Linked DNA regions of Homo sapiens. The protein of the gene in region 2 interacts with the protein of the main gene of each other region in a biochemical or structural test. Each region holds a gene or a part of one and is shown on either strand. Other genes may lie near its edges.

Region 1 (7,608 bases), on a different chromosome or scaffold from region 2:
AAATAGAGGCACAGAGTGGCCAAGTAACCTCAAGTCACACACACAAGCTCAACTTTTAAGTATTTAAATATACTTCAAATATATTTCTAAAGGAGTCTTTAACAGAAAAAAGTACTGACTCCATGTACTTTGCTGCTGCTTTTGTGATCCCTGTTGAAGTGACTTCAAGAAGTGACAATGATGCCAGGCATTTGGTTAAGTATGATGTGGTGAGTTAACCTTAAAATAGAAAATTTGGTCAATAAGCATTTTTATTTTGGAGCCAGAGAGCTATTTTAGGGACCTGCTGCCTGGAAAGGATATCCTTGGGACAGCAGATCCCTTAGTTCCTAATGAATAGCTGCATCACCAACACAGCTTCTCCTGACCATGGTAGGGCCATCAGCAGGGTAACTCAGCCCAGCTTATTAACCCTTCTGTTTTCTTTCCAGCTAGCCACAGTGCAGCCTGGCCAGAATTTCCACATGTTCACAAAGGAAGAACTTGAAGAGGTTATCAAGGACATTTAAGGAATCCTGATCCTCAGAACTTCTCTGGGACAATTTCAGTTCTAATAATGTCCTTAAATTTTATTTCCAGCTCCTGTTCCTTGGAAAATCTCCATTGTATGTGCATTTTTTAAATGATGTCTGTACATAAAGGCAGTTCTGAAATAAAGAAAATTTTAAAATATTTGTTAATAGACTGTTCTCTTCTAATAGTCTTTTTTTTTTTTTTTTTTTTAAGAGATGAGGTCTCACTATATTGCCCAGGCTGGTTTCAAACTCCTGGGTTCAAGTGATCTTCCCGCCTCTGCCTCCTGAAGTGCTAGGATTATAGGCGAGAGCCACTGTGCCCAGCCATTGTAATACAGTCTTTTGTTTGAAATGCAAATGTTAGTGGGCCAAAAGGACAGTGTTATTAATATCCCTATTCTATGAAGATGTCTGTTCTAAAACTGTTTTAGTGATGCTCTATAACAGAATCAACTATATCCATTAATCCCATGGTGTTGATAAATGAACTAGTCCAGCTCTTCCCAGTGGTTAATAGATGTTAACAGCACTGTAAATCCATTTCGGCCCTATAATTTCTGGAGCAAACGTGTATTTTTGCTGCTTTTCTTATAAGGAGATGCTACTAATTGACTATCAGAAGAACATGTTTTGAGGTCCTCCTCAAAACATTGATGGGTTGGAATCAGCCATCAACAGTGTTGTACCAGTTCTTGGGTCTTGATAGACAATTTGGAAAGAGATTTCCTTGTTTACGAAGTGAAGGACTAAGAATTAAATTAATGACCTTGGCCTCACTGGCAATCAATTACAAATCTCTATATCAGTAAGAGAATTGTAAAATTCAGAAGCAGTTTACATTAGACTTTGGAATGAATGATGAACTTTCCCCATTAGAGCTGCCATCATATGATTGGTGGAGATTGTTTAAAGAATCATTCTATCTCAGCCTCAAAAATTACCACGGGAAGATGGTATCAGTATCACTACTTAACAGATGAAGAATCTAATGCTGTGTGCCCATGGACACACAAAATTAAGCTGTTGGGACTTGAACAGCTCAAATTTTCTTGTTTCAGATCACCAGCTCTTGAGTAATAGGGAAATCTGGAGATTTGAAAAGTACTTGCACTGTCCACAACATGGCTAATCCATATGTGGATGATGCAGAATTGATTTAATTCACTAACAGGGACCCCATAATTATTTGCTGGGCTCTGGGTATATTGATGTGTAGGAAGTTGTACTATATGTTAATAAATTATGACTATTTGGATAGGCTGAATTCATACTAAATCCATACTGTAGTTCAACAAAAAACAACATGTTTATATACATTTGGAAACTGCAATGATAGGAAACATTTGGAAGAAAGGGATTTTGCCCTAGAATAACACATAAGGAAAGCAGAGAATTAGAGTATATTGTTACTGAATGTTCCAGAGACTTCTAGTGATTTTAACACTTATTAAGTATAGCATGTTGATGGGGAGATTTGTTTCTCTAAAGATCACTTTGTTTTATTAAATCCTAATAGAAAATACCCTTGAAAATCCTATCTCATTTATTCCTGTAACAAATTTATTGAGCACCTACCTACTATATGCCAAGAAATGTATTAGCCATCAGGCAGAGAGCTGTTCAAATGGTAGATATGATCTGTGCTCCTGTGAAACTTCTAGTGGGGAGAGCCAAACAATAAACAATATTCCTTTTTAACTCTAGGTTAATGCAGAAATGGATAAAGCCCATGTTGCTTTTGGGAGAGGTGAGTTGTGTCTCTGAATCACATGCATTTCATAGGGGGAAAAATGCCCAAATACTAAGGAGTAGCTCTTAGCCTATGTCCGTTCGCCTCAGCTTAAGTTGTTTTCCCTCCCACTGGCTGGGCAGCATATTTGTGTTTTACCTGGTAAAACAGTAAATTTCGTACCTTCTATAATTGGCATTCTTCAAAGAGGTAGAACTTTGATTTTTTTGTAGAATATTAAAACAAGCTTTCTTAGGTTAAAGAAGTGATCTTACTACGAACAGCAATGGTTTCATGATGTGTAATTGCTTTATGTTATCTTTCTGCTATAGAATGTTTCCTGGAGAAAGGTACGGTTTTTAGTAATAAGATAAATTTACTTTAGTCCTGCAAATAAGGTGAAATCTTATGTCCAGTATCTCACAAAGGAGAACTGACAGTGCCACTTTTATATTTAATGTCAATCTCATTAGACAAAAATGAAATATAGTTCCTAGGGTTTCCAATTTAAAAAGTGAAATAATAAATATATTCACTCAAACATTTTCTCAGTGCCATATGCAAGTTACCATGTCCCAGAAGCTGATACAGTTTGAAGAAGGAAATATATAAGTACTGTAAGCCTGTGATAACTAAAAGCAACATACTAAAAAGTGAAGGTACAGATAATTGGAACAAATTTAATAGCGTTTAAAAGTGTATTTGGTAATTTCTCCAGGAGGTGGCACTGTTGAGTTGTTTTTTCTTTTCAGACAGTAAGACAATAGACCATTCATCTTTGTGTCACCCAAACAAAGAAATATTCCTTTATAACCCCCTTTCCTCCCCCCACCTAATCACATGCTACTGGAACTGACTGTCTTGTGATCTACTCCCATAGTTGGCATAGATTTAAAAATAATCTTTTTTAAATTAATCTGATAGTAGTTATGGAAAGGAACAAATTGTTCACCAATTTTCATCAGCTTTATCTTTTCAGTCCAGTAACTGAGAACTTAAAAAGACTATTCTAGTGATTTTACTATCCTGCTCAGATGGCATTCAAAAACATTTTTCACTTCTCACGTCTTGGAAAAATTTGTAAATTCGTTAAGTCTTTTTGTTTGAAAGTTAATGTGACTGGAAATATTTTAATGTAAATATCGGGTTGGGTGCATTGTATCATTTTGCTCTACAATGACTATATCCTCATTTGGGTTTATGGCCAGTTTATAATTAAAAGTAATCTTTACTTGCTTTGAGTGTAATGACTTGCATATTTTGTATCTTTCTATTTGCTACCTTTTCTACTGAACAATTTCTAGCTTTCTGAAGGGATGGAGTCAGTAAGCTTAAGGATTCAGAACTGGTTTTACCTGTGCTACGTGTTGTAGAAGTTGTGTGTGCAGCTTCTGCGGTAAAGGGAACAGCGTAGGGGTTTTATTTTATTCATTAGAGGTGGATCGGGGTGCTAATTTAGAGGACATCACATACTGGAACCAAACTTGTCCGAAGCTCTCACTGCAGAGTTAAGGCACTTTGGTAAAATAAATGTGCATCTAGGAAATGATCATGTGTACAGTAGGCATTGGATCATTCTCTTGCCCCTCTTTTACCTGCCCCTAATGCCTAAGCTACATTCGAAGTCCTGGAAAACCTGTAAGTAATTCCGCCTTTGGCCTACCTCCCCTCAGAAGAGGAAGGTGAGAGAGGCCAAACGTATGGAAAGACTATTCTTCAGGCTTGCAGGAGTCACGGATGTCCTGATGTCTGTCTCCGTAGGATGTGGCCCACATCAGTTCGCATTCACCTTCTTGCAGCAAGGCAGCTGCTTAGCAGACAATGGGCGCTCCAGTGAGCGGGGTTTATAAAAACCCGAAGCCCCGGTTCATGATGGAGCCCCCTTTTCCAGCTGAGCAAGCTCAGGGATTTCCTGGGTAGGTTTTTCCAGGCTCTGCCTCACCGAAGGAATTTTAGGAGTGTCTCTGGGGAACAGGAGGGACGTAACCCAGCCCCAACTTGAGGGCGCTAGAGGTGCGGCAAGGGGTCGCGACGCCAGGAGCCCGGGGCTCGGCGGGAAGGTATGAGAAGCTCCTACGTGAACTCCACAAGCCGGGCCCGGGAGACGCCGGGCGAGGCGGGGTTGACCTCAGCAGTCTCTGCCCCGTTCCAGCCAATCAGTCCCGCATCTTAGCATCCGAATCCAGGACCCCCGAAGCCGGAGGCGACGCGAGCCAATGAGGAGTGGGCCGGGGAAGAGGGACAGGCGGCCAGCCTATGGGGCGGAGAGGCCCGGCCGCGCGTATCCAAGGAGCGCCGCGCTCGGCTCGGGGGTGTGGCGCGCGCCGGCGGGGGTGGGCGGGCGCGCCGGGCGGCAGGTGTCGGCGTCGGCGGCATTCGGCGGCGATGGAGCGGCCCTGGGGAGCTGCGGACGGCCTCTCGCGCTGGCCCCATGGCCTCGGCCTCCTCCTCCTCCTGCAGCTGCTGCCGCCGTCGACCCTCAGCCAGGACCGGCTGGACGCGCCGCCGCCGCCCGCTGCGCCGCTGCCGCGCTGGTCTGGCCCCATCGGGGTGAGCTGGGGGCTGCGGGCGGCCGCAGCCGGGGGCGCGTTTCCCCGCGGCGGCCGTTGGCGTCGCAGCGCGCCGGGCGAGGACGAGGAGTGCGGCCGGGTCCGGGACTTCGTCGCCAAGCTGGCCAACAACACGCACCAGGTGAGCGGGCGCCGGGCCCGGGAGCCGCTCGGGTGCGAGGTGCCGCCCGCGTGCCCCTCCCGGCCCGTGCGCCCCGCGACTCCCGGAGGAGACCCCAGCCCTGCCGCGCCCGCGTCCCCCGGGCCGCAGCCCCGAAACTGCGGCGGGCGGGCGGGCGGAGTCGGGCCCGGGCGGCCGGCGGGGCTGTGTTTTGTCATAGGGGAGGCAATCTTAGACTTCCACCGCATTCTTTTTTTTTTTTTTAAGTTGTCAAAATCTCTTGAACATCGTTTTTCGTCTGTATAAATAATCAGGACCCAGTAACGCTGTTAGGCCCCAGGAAGGTGAAGGAGTAATTAACTCTTGAGCGCTTGCAGAAGTTGGGCTGCGCAGAAGCAAAGGTGTGTCCTCTCTGGGTCAGTACTTTCCGGGTGGGAGAGGCGGGAGTTCAGGAGGCCCGAAGCAGCGATCTGGTCACCGTGTTTTAATAGTTAAGGGGACTAGCTTGGAAATGAGATGGCAATATTTATGTGATCTCTTTTACTGCTTCAGATTTGACCTTCTGTCATGGTACGGAAGTCTGACTAGCATGTCTATATCCCGTGGTGACAAGATTTTCAATAGTTAAGAAACGCATTGCACATATTCTGCTTTGAGCCAGCTCTTGGTCAAAAGACTTTCAAAATTATGGGATTTCTGTCCCTGGGGACAAGCAGCTCAACCTTTGCACACTACTGGACTGACAAAACTAATTATTAAGAAAGTCCTGGTTCCTTGCTTCAGCACAACTTGGGCATCTTTCTCCTATTTCTCTAAAATTAACAATTTAATCCTTGCTAGCCACATTTGCATAATGTATTTTCAATTCTATATATTTTCTCCCTTGCCTGTTTTCCTCTTTCAAAGAAAATGAATTGCACTTGGGGGCAGAGATGGGTGGCCAAGGCTCTGTGCCAGCACTTGTCCTTCTGTAACCGTTTTTCAGCGTCAGCCAAGCCTCAGTCTCCCTTTGGACTGCCTGGTTATCTGGACCATACTTGTTACCTGTAATAGAATTCTCTGATCTGAGGACACAAGACACAAATATTCAGGAATAATTGTGCTTAGTGTATCCCGAGCAGCAGCTGTGTAAAGGTAGCCAAGCTAGTGCTGGAGGGTGAGACAGGTTGGGTAGAATGAGTACTGGGAAGTCTTCCTACTTGATGAGAAAAAAAAATCGAATAGACTTCCTTCTCACAGTGGGGGATTGAGAAAGGCTTTACAACACTAATGCTTAATTTATACTGGACCACTTCCTTCCTTGAGCTAGCTGGTCACAGCATTCTTGCTCCATATTTCAAATTCTTCTCTCGCTGGTTGACCTAACTTTAGGTCTGCTGCTACTCCTGGATTTAGATTTACTCCTGTTTTTCTTTTTCTCTTTTTTTGTGAGATAGAGTCTTACCTCAGCCTCCTGAGTAGCTGGGACTACAGGTGTGCACCACTATGCCTAGCTAATTTTTGTGTAATTACTATTTTTTTTTTGAGATAGGGTCTCACTCTGTTGCCCAGGCTGGAATGCAGTGGTGTGATCACAGCTCACTGCAGCCCTGACCTCCTGGGCTCAAGTGATCCTCTCACCTCAGCCTCCCAAGTAGCCGGGACTACTGGTACATGCACCCAGCTAATTGTTCTTTTCTTTCTTTCTTTCTTTTTTTAAGAAACAGGGTTTTGCCATGTTCCCCAGGCTGGTCTTGAACTCCTGGGCTCAAGTGCTCCACCCACCTTAGCCTGCCACAGTGCTGAGATTAGAGGCGTGAGCCACTATGCCCTGCCTGGATTTATTCCTTGAGTCAGAGTCTTCCTGGTTAGTTTGAATTGATGTGTCATTTGTAATATATTGATTCCAAAGAAAGAGGTTGAAAAAACTGGCTCAGGGGTTCTAAGGCCAAATCTGTGGAAGAGTAGACCTAAAACCACTCATTCTTTGAAGTCCACATGTAAAGAAATTTTCTTCTATTTCTTTCATTTAGCTGTTTGCAATAATTTTTTTTTAGTTTTTCTCTCCCAGTCTTTTTTTCAGTGACCTTATTTAAAATAGCTATTTTGGCTGGGCACGGTGGCTCATGCCTGTAATCTTATCAATGTGGGAGGCCAAGGCAGGTGGATCACTTGAGGTCAGAAGTTCAAGACTAGCCTGGCCAACATGGTGAAACCCTGTCTCTACTAAAAATACAAAAGTTAGCCAGACGCGGTGGCATGCGCCTGTAATTCCAGTTATTCTGGAGGCTGAGGCATGACGATCACTTGAACCCAGGAGGCAGAGGTTGCAGCGAGCCGAGATCGCACCGTTGTACTCCAGCCTGGGTGACAGAGTGAGACTCTATCTCAAAAAAAAAAAAAAAAAAAAAAAAAAAAAAGTTTTTGCGTTTGTTAGTCATCCGTGGTCTCTTCTTCAGAGATCTCATCCTTTCTGTATCTGGTTAAAAAAAAAAAAAGTGGAGCCTTTGTTTAATATCATTTACCTTAAAAATGGTTAAGTAGTACTTCTTAACCAAGAATTGTTATGTAGTAGCCTGTTCTTCTGTTTATTTATTTGGTTTTAGAAGTCATAAAAAATCCTGAACTGTATTGAAGAGATCTAGTATTTTTGGACCGTTTATAAAACAGTGTGAAATAAAAGCATCAGCATGACAGAACAACTTTTTATCAGAG
Region 2 (7,919 bases):
GTTTATTTATGCTTTCTTTCCCTTTAAAAAATATTTTAAACTTTCTCTGAGTCTGGTCCAGATACGTAGGACTGGCTTTGTTTTGGAGGACATAGATAAAGACTATTTCTCTTTCTCCACTATCTGTATGTATATACTTAAAAAAGAAAAAGAAGAAACACCTTTGTGTGTGATGACCAGAGCAGAGACTGGGTCAGCAGAGGTCTTTATGGAATAAGAGACTTCAGGGGGCAGAAATCTCACCTCATTAGTTAACATGATTTGAGTGATCAAAACTTTAACACTCATCACCTCATTTCCTACGTTATCTCAGACCTGCCTGCATGTTCAATGCCCTGAACCTAATAAGCCCTACTAGAATTATAAGCACCATTTATTATTATTTTTTAATGCTGGCAGTGCTTGGCACCATTTCCTAAACGGAGGTTAAAAATTTGCCAAAGATGTATTCTACTTTTCTCTTTCTTTCCAAGATCTTTCAAGAGATGAGCTAAAAGAAGAGGTCTAATGGGTGAGTGATATTTTACAGCTTGAATTACATTAAAAGCCAGAAACATTCTGAGTCCAAAGTCTTTTACTTCTTAATACAACAAGAGCTAACATGTTTGATGTGTTTCAAATCTCCCCTTAAAGCCAGAAGCTTTGAGTTAATCACTTAAAGCAGTGTGAAAGTTATTCAATCAGTTTAAGAAGATTCGAGTTCAAATTAGAGGATTAATTTTAGTGGCTATGATATGAAAGATATAATGGTTAAGGTAAGGAATGAGGGCAAGGGTCTCCAGAACTTGAATGGAAAGAATTTCAGCTTCATTTATTTGATCAAACCACTCCTGAGAACCATATAAAATCACAGACTCTGTCATGAAGGAGGAATTGTAGGGAAAACCCTGCTACTACTCTCAGGACAGATACATCAATGCTAAATATTATCTATCATGATGTGCCTTAATACAATTTATATCTGTGTACCCAAGGAATTCATGATGACAGATTAGTATTTTAAAATGTTCACAACTCTCATTAAAAAGCTGACAATGAGCACAACTCACTAAAGTGGCACTTCTCTGGGAAGGTTTCTGGGAATTACATCACAACAGAAAACGTTTTGAAAGGTTCCAGACTGCGTAAATTGTGCATATTACAAACACTACAATCTCAATTACCTGGTTGAAGCTGTAAAACTTGAAATTTTTTTCCCCCATTTTACCCATCCTTGGTTGTTATGTTCTTGTCTATGTCTGGAGAAGTTTCCACACTTTAAAATCACTTTTAGTTATTACAATCAAAGCTGGTTCTCTACTATTTCAACTCACTGAAGTTTCTAGGTTCAATTTAAACAGGAATAGCTCCCTCAGATTGCAGACATGCAAGCTTTTCTGAAAATCTAAAACCTTTCCTGATAGGACCAAAGCTCATGGACTTGCATCCTAAGTCCCCTGGAATCCAGCCTCCTGGAATTGAGCAATCCCTTTCCTGCCTTCATAAAGGGAATGTTAAGTCTTTATTTGTGCTCTTCATTAGAGGAGGTCAGGCAATGGGGGAGAACAGGGAGTTGTTGTCACTGGGATATATCTGATCTTCCTGGGACTGACCATGCCAGAGAACAACCGCTCATTCACGGGCTGGAAAGCCCCAGTTCTCAAAACACCCTCGCTTAGCGCTGTTAGAAGATGCTGGAGAGTTCCTGCCCTGAAACTTGCATCCACTTGGTCCCTAAAGCAGAGGATACACTAAAGAACACCTTATATACTCTCCACTGCAGTTCTCCCTTGTGGAGAAGAAGGGGTTAGGAGCTCCGCATGAAATTAAAATAAAATAAAATAAAACGCCTACATATATGGGTCTTCTTAATCTTCTTTGAGCCAGTACATAGGTCTGGCAAGTAAAGGGAAAGTCACTTGAGGGGATGTCAGCTTGCCTGGAAATTTAACCCTTTCATCTCTGTATTAGGAGAACTTTAACCCCTCTGTTTACCTGGTCTTCAGTTCCACACACCAATGCGACCAAGGCAACAGGAAATAGGGATTTGACTCCTCAGTTTGAAGCTGTGGCATTTGGAGAGGACTCTGATGGTGTTGGTGGGAGAGATGGGGAGGTTGGTCTCCTAGTAGGTGATGTTAACTCTTGGGGGAAGTGGGCAGAGACCAGTTTGCAGCATCTCCCATGTCCAGAAACCCTATTTCCCCCCAATTCTCCATCAGATCACACAGCCGACTTTAACCCTTTCCATCTTTCCACCCCTTTACCCTCAGTCCCATTCTACTCACGCTGCTGTTGTGGCCAGACCAGTGGACCATGGCTTGGTTGTGTGCTGAGTCTCCCGTCAGCGCAAACGTGGTGCTGGTCAGTCTCAGCTCCTCCATCCGGAAGCGGGTGGCTTTGTCCGGGTCCCGCTCCCGAGTCCCAGGCTCCTGCTGCCCTCCATCTCTTAGCACTCCCCGGGGGCTCCGACTCGCGCCCTCTCCCCGTTCTGCCTTCTCCTGATCCGCTCCGCTCCGTCTCCTCCGGCCGGAGCGTGCAGCAACCGCCATGGATGCCCCAGTGCCCCGAGCCCGCTCCAGGGATAGCGCTCGGTCCCCGGGGGCCACTGAGAACAGGGGACGCACTACGAGGGGCAGGGGCGTGGCAGGAGCCCTGCCTGGCCGCCCCTGGTGGGAAAAGCCCCTAGGGGTCGAGGCCGAGCGTGGAGCGGAGCTGGGGTGCGGCGAGGGGCAGCAGGAGCCGCCGCCGCAGACGCCCGGGGCGCAGAGGATCAAGAGCCCCGCGCCGGCGAGGAGCGCGCTCAGCCGGGCTTGGGAGCCGCCGCCGGCGCCAACTTTTCCCATCGCGGGAGCGAAGAGCAGCGGAGAGAGGGGTCCCAGAACGAAGGTGGCGGCACGAGCTCTGCGCTGGCGGCTGTGGGGGGCCGGCGCTCAGGACCCCAACTCCATCCAAGTTGCGCCGCGGTGGGGGCGGGCGGAGGCGGCGCCGGGCAGGTGGCGGCCGCTTGCCCGGGCTGGGCTTGTGCCGAGCGCGGGTCCGGACGGAGCGAGCCGCCGCCGCGCGGGGGTGGAGCTGAGCTGAAGTCACTGGCGGAGCGGGCGCGGGCGCTGGCGGGCGACGCGGGAGGGAGGGCAGGCGCTGCCGGGACTCCGGGCGCCGCGTCCCGCGGCCGAGCTGCGCTGCGCACCGGGTCTCCGGGCGCTGGAGGCGCCGCCGGCGACCTCCCCTCGGCCTCGCAGGCGCTGCCGCCGCCTCTCCCCGCCGCCCACTCTGCGCCCCCGCGGCCGCGGGTCCCGGCGCTGAGTCCGCGCACCCTGCCCGCGGGGGCGGTCGACCCCGGGCTCCCGGAGCAGTCGATGTGTCGGGAGCTTCCTATTCCTGCTTTATTGTTTCTATGAGTCTATGTTGCTGTTTCCTTTTTTCTCCGTCTTTCTGGTCTTTTCTAGTTGAGGAGATAGGGATGGGTGGGCTTCTGCTCCTTCCCTCTCTTATGCTTCCTGAGTTGGCATCTTGACCTTACCCGCAGCAGAGCCTGTGTGTCCCAGCCTGGGGGGAGATCCCGGAAAGGCAGCAGCAGAGAGTGATGTAATTAAATGATCTCGTGTGTGAGTGTGTGTGTGTGTGTGTGTGTGTGTGTGTTAGTTTGGGGGATTTTTTTTCCCATCAATTTTAACGCTTAGATTTCTCTCCTAACCTCCTAAAGCATTCACTGAATTTGAACCCAATCTTCCTGCATGCAATCATATTTAAGAAAACGCTTTCCACTACGCGTTTTTTAAGCGTATATATCTTGGTTTCCCTAAGAGACTGCAAACTCATTGAGGACAGGAAGATCAAATTTCGAGCAACTTGGAGGAAGTGACCTGTTTTTTGTTTACCATTTTCCTCAGTACGTGGCACAGTACCCTACATGGGAGGAAATCTGCCAGTCATTAGTTCAATAAATATTTATTGTGAGTCTAATGCATATCTGCATAACAAATAAATACAGGAAAGGAGGCACAGTACTTATAGTTATTCTGTGTCACTTGGTGCCTGGCCCAGTGCTACTGCCACATGCTTTGAGATCCCTAATAGCAAGTCTGTGATGGTGCTCTGCCACTGGTTTGCTTTGGGACCTCAGACAAATCACAATCTGTCAGCTTCCTAAGCTTTAAAATTAAATGGTCACATTAGATGACCTTTAAAATCCCTTCCGCTCCTAAAATTCTATAATTGTATGATTATAGTATCTGCCCAGCCTAGCACCCTGCTACTATTCGTAAGTTCAGATGAAGATTTATAGCAGGTGAATGGGCTTTGAAAACGGCAAAGGATTTCTCAAAATCCAATCCTTTTTAAAGTAGACAGTTTGCTTCTAAGGGTTGAAATGGTTTCAGATTTCTTTGCAGTCTTCATATACGTAATATTCTCTTAGGTACATGTTATTACATTATTTAATGAATATTTACTGATTGAATAAATGAATGACACAACAAAATAGTACCGATTCCAGTTTCTAGTTACATTTTTGTTCATTTTCATACTAGAATAATAACCTCACTGAAAAATCTGTATACCGTGTTTGCGATGAGGCCAAGTTCAAAGTAATACAGAGTGATAATTACTCTTCAATTAATGAAATTCTTTCTAATGTCCAAGAAAACGTCTGTTATATCAATCCAATCCAGAGAGGTGTTGTAAAATATCGGCCTAAGTTCTTGTTCTTACGACCAGCGCAGAAAAAGTGCAAATGCAAGGAGGGCAGGCTTCTCAGCCATTAAACTTGAGTACCTAAAAGGACCTAAAAGAGTGTCCTGTTTGTCGTTAAAGAAGAAATACAAGCAAAAGCTCCTTTATGCCTGAATCCTCCAAAACAGAAAGGCTGTCTGGCAGGCTATGGCCTCTAGATGGAGGAGAGGAGAGCCAGAGGTCCTCTCTCCTCCTCAAATTGCAAATGTTCTTTGTCAAAACCCAGAGCGGTAGTTTTTTCTTTCCTCAGAAAGGTTTTTAGAGCTTTGCAGGATCATTTACTTAATGACTTCTTTCTATGCCCTGCTAACCTCCTTTCCAGTCTGGATAAGTACATGGGAATTCCTCCAAGAAAGGAAAAGCAGATTAAAGAATCAGAACCCAAATAAATTATCATCCAAATATAGGCTGGAAGAAGCAAAATGGAAAAGAAGACATTAGTGGATTCAGATTTCCTGGCTTTAGTCTATCATTGCCCTACCACCATTTATGTTATTTTGGTTTCAAAATGGAAGCGCTTCCTGAAGAATGCTCGTACAAGTAGAGTAGATTTTTCCTTCCCAGAATTTACAACCTCTTTTCAAACACACCTGTCAGAATGATCCCTTTAAAATGAAAGCATTTGCAGTCCATTTGCTGGGAGTTCATAGAGAGCAGGCAAGTTTTTAATGCCTGATTTTAATTATTCATTTGAGACAGAAGTTACACAAGTGTGGATGACATTGGCTGCAAGCCGTATTGTTCATATGTAGATAGATGGATTCATTTTATTTCTTATGGCTCTGCTCCCCGTTTACTTTTGCCAACAAACAGAAGCGGAAAGTACCAGTAATTTCCTAAATTATTCCCCTTATCTAGAAGACTCCAATAAATAGGCTAATCATGGAGGGGAGTCTATTTCAAGATGTTTTCAATCCAACAACCCACTAAGCAATCCAATAGATTTTTATTAATATAATATAATAAGAATGAGTCATTTGTTAGGAAAGTAATTGATATCAAAGGCTAGTAGAGAACATAAATCTGTAATTCCAATAAGGAGTCTTTTCATTGTGCACGTGACAAATATGCCACGACTTCATCTAAGTTATCATCATTTCTCATCTGGACTACCACAACAGCCTCTTACTGCTCACTCTACTCCATAATTGCACTGTTCCGTTCCTTCTCTCCAATAGTCATCTCCAAAGATGACACAAGTACAAGGGCACAAGCACACTCAGGTGATCCATTTTTGTGCAAGATGAAAATAATAGAATTTGGTGATATATTTAGTTTTAATCAGAAAGATTAAAATTTAGCCTTGCTAAAATATTTAATTATTGATTAATATACCTATGTTATATACAGTTTTATATACAATATAAACATATGTATATATATTCATATATATGCATATATATGTATAAAGAGAGAGACAGAAGCAGATAGAGAAAGAAGCAGAGGCAGAAAGACAAAGAATATGAACATTTAGTCATTGTATACTGATTGGTGTGCACAATCAAAAAAGTGTGGACACTCTGCCCTACAAGGCAGCAAAAGTAGTCTTTCAAAAGGATAAAAAATATAATTTATTGTAACTGCTTAATACTTCCTGCCAGCTTACCATCACAAACAGAATAATATCCAAACTCCTTACCATGGCTGACCAAGTACTCACTTCTCCATCACATTTGGCAGGATTCTCTACCCTCATCCTAATACGCCAACCATTAGGGGCTATCCTTTTCGCTGATGTGCCCAGTTTTTTCCAATTCGTGACCTTTGCACATGCTGTTCCGCCTGCCTAGAACGTCCACCGTCCAACCCCACTTCATATGGCTGACTCCTCTTTTTTGAGACCTTCACTTTAAATATACAACCTTAGAGAGACTTTTCCTGAACCTCTGCCTACAGAAGAAATTTATTCCACATTTTCTGTATCAATCTCTTGCCAGATCTTTCTAAGCGTATATTACAGCATTTAATTATTTTACTTAAACCTGTTTTTTGTTAATAACTTCCAAAAAATCCACATGTGGATAAAGGCCCTGTGCTCCTTATTTCAACATTTATTTTCAACATTAACCTCATTTCAACATTTCTTTCAGTGCCTAGTTAATTAAGTGCTCAATAAATAATGGCTGGTTAGCTGGGTGGCACCAGTATAACAAGCCTAGGAGCACAACTCTTAGTAACTAGTACTTTGTAAATCAGATATATACTCTATGCCAGAAACTATGCTATGGAGTTTAAATGTACCAGCTCATGCCTTTTTTTTTTTTTTTTTTTTTTTACAAAGCTTATATCACATAAGTACTATCATTCTCCCCACTTCACAGATGATATTAAGTAACTAGGGTCACACAGCAATTAGTGCAAAGAGACAAGGTTTCTACGTAGGCATTCTTATTCCCAGTATGTTCTTGATTTTATGAAATACTGTTTTACTCCAAATCCAACTAATAACAGATAACACTTATTGATGATTTTCTATGTGTCAGGCACTCTAATTGGCTTGAAACATTTTTAGTAATGCTGAGCAAGCAATTTTGGGAACAAGTGTGCACTTTTTTTAGGCTGAGGGGAATATATATACTCCCCATTTCTATTTGCTTTTATTTTGTGTGTGGGAAGTAATGTTAAAGAGAATGTTATAACCACTCCCCACATAATCTTACAGCATAAGCTACAGGTTAACTGTCTCATTGGTTTTTTGTCTTCCCTTTTTCCTAAGTCTCTTGATTTTTGATGGCTACTTTGGCTTCAGTTTGCACTAAATCACATTTATATGCCTCATCGTTTGAACAATGTCTTTTAATAGTTCTCAAAATATTTGGCTCCCCTTGGATACCATTGAGACAAAGTGTCTTGTCTTGCATTTCAGATCAATTTCATGAAGAACCACAGAAAGAAAACTGGGGAGAATAATATGCAGGCTATTCTCATTGCCTGCCAACAGAATGATGGGATTTTTAAAATCTGTCCCTTAAAATACTTTCAGGTATCAACAAATACAGACCTAGCTCTGAATCCAGTAATTGTACCCGTTCTCATACACCCAATCTAAGTGGTGTTAGTAGGAGCACATAAGCCCTCTTATCTTTAAAAACAGGGCTAAGATTATCTACCTAACTCATAAGGATGTTATGAAAGTTAATTCTACCTTGGACACCCGTTGGAGATAACAAAACTATCTTGGATTTGTGTACCCTCTGTCTCATCAC

Evidence for each region. The genes of interacting proteins can lie anywhere in the genome.
Region 1: the proteins of SORCS1 (region 2) and SORT1 form a complex in vitro, tested with the Homo sapiens proteins (2 studies listed by BioGRID and IntAct, with this or other methods).

Annotation. Positions count from the first base shown.
Region 1 is NC_000001.11:109,394,914-109,402,521, reverse strand, and holds the start of SORT1 (sortilin isoform 1 preproprotein), read left to right. Parts: upstream 1-4,603; 5' UTR 4,604-4,629; coding exon 4,630-4,935; intron 4,936-7,608. Other genes in the region: PSMA5 (proteasome subunit alpha type-5), read left to right, coding at 432-509.
Region 2 is NC_000010.11:107,161,702-107,169,620, forward strand, and holds the start of SORCS1 (VPS10 domain-containing receptor SorCS1 isoform a precursor), read right to left. Parts: upstream 3,006-7,919; 5' UTR 2,826-3,005; coding exon 2,268-2,825; intron 1-2,267.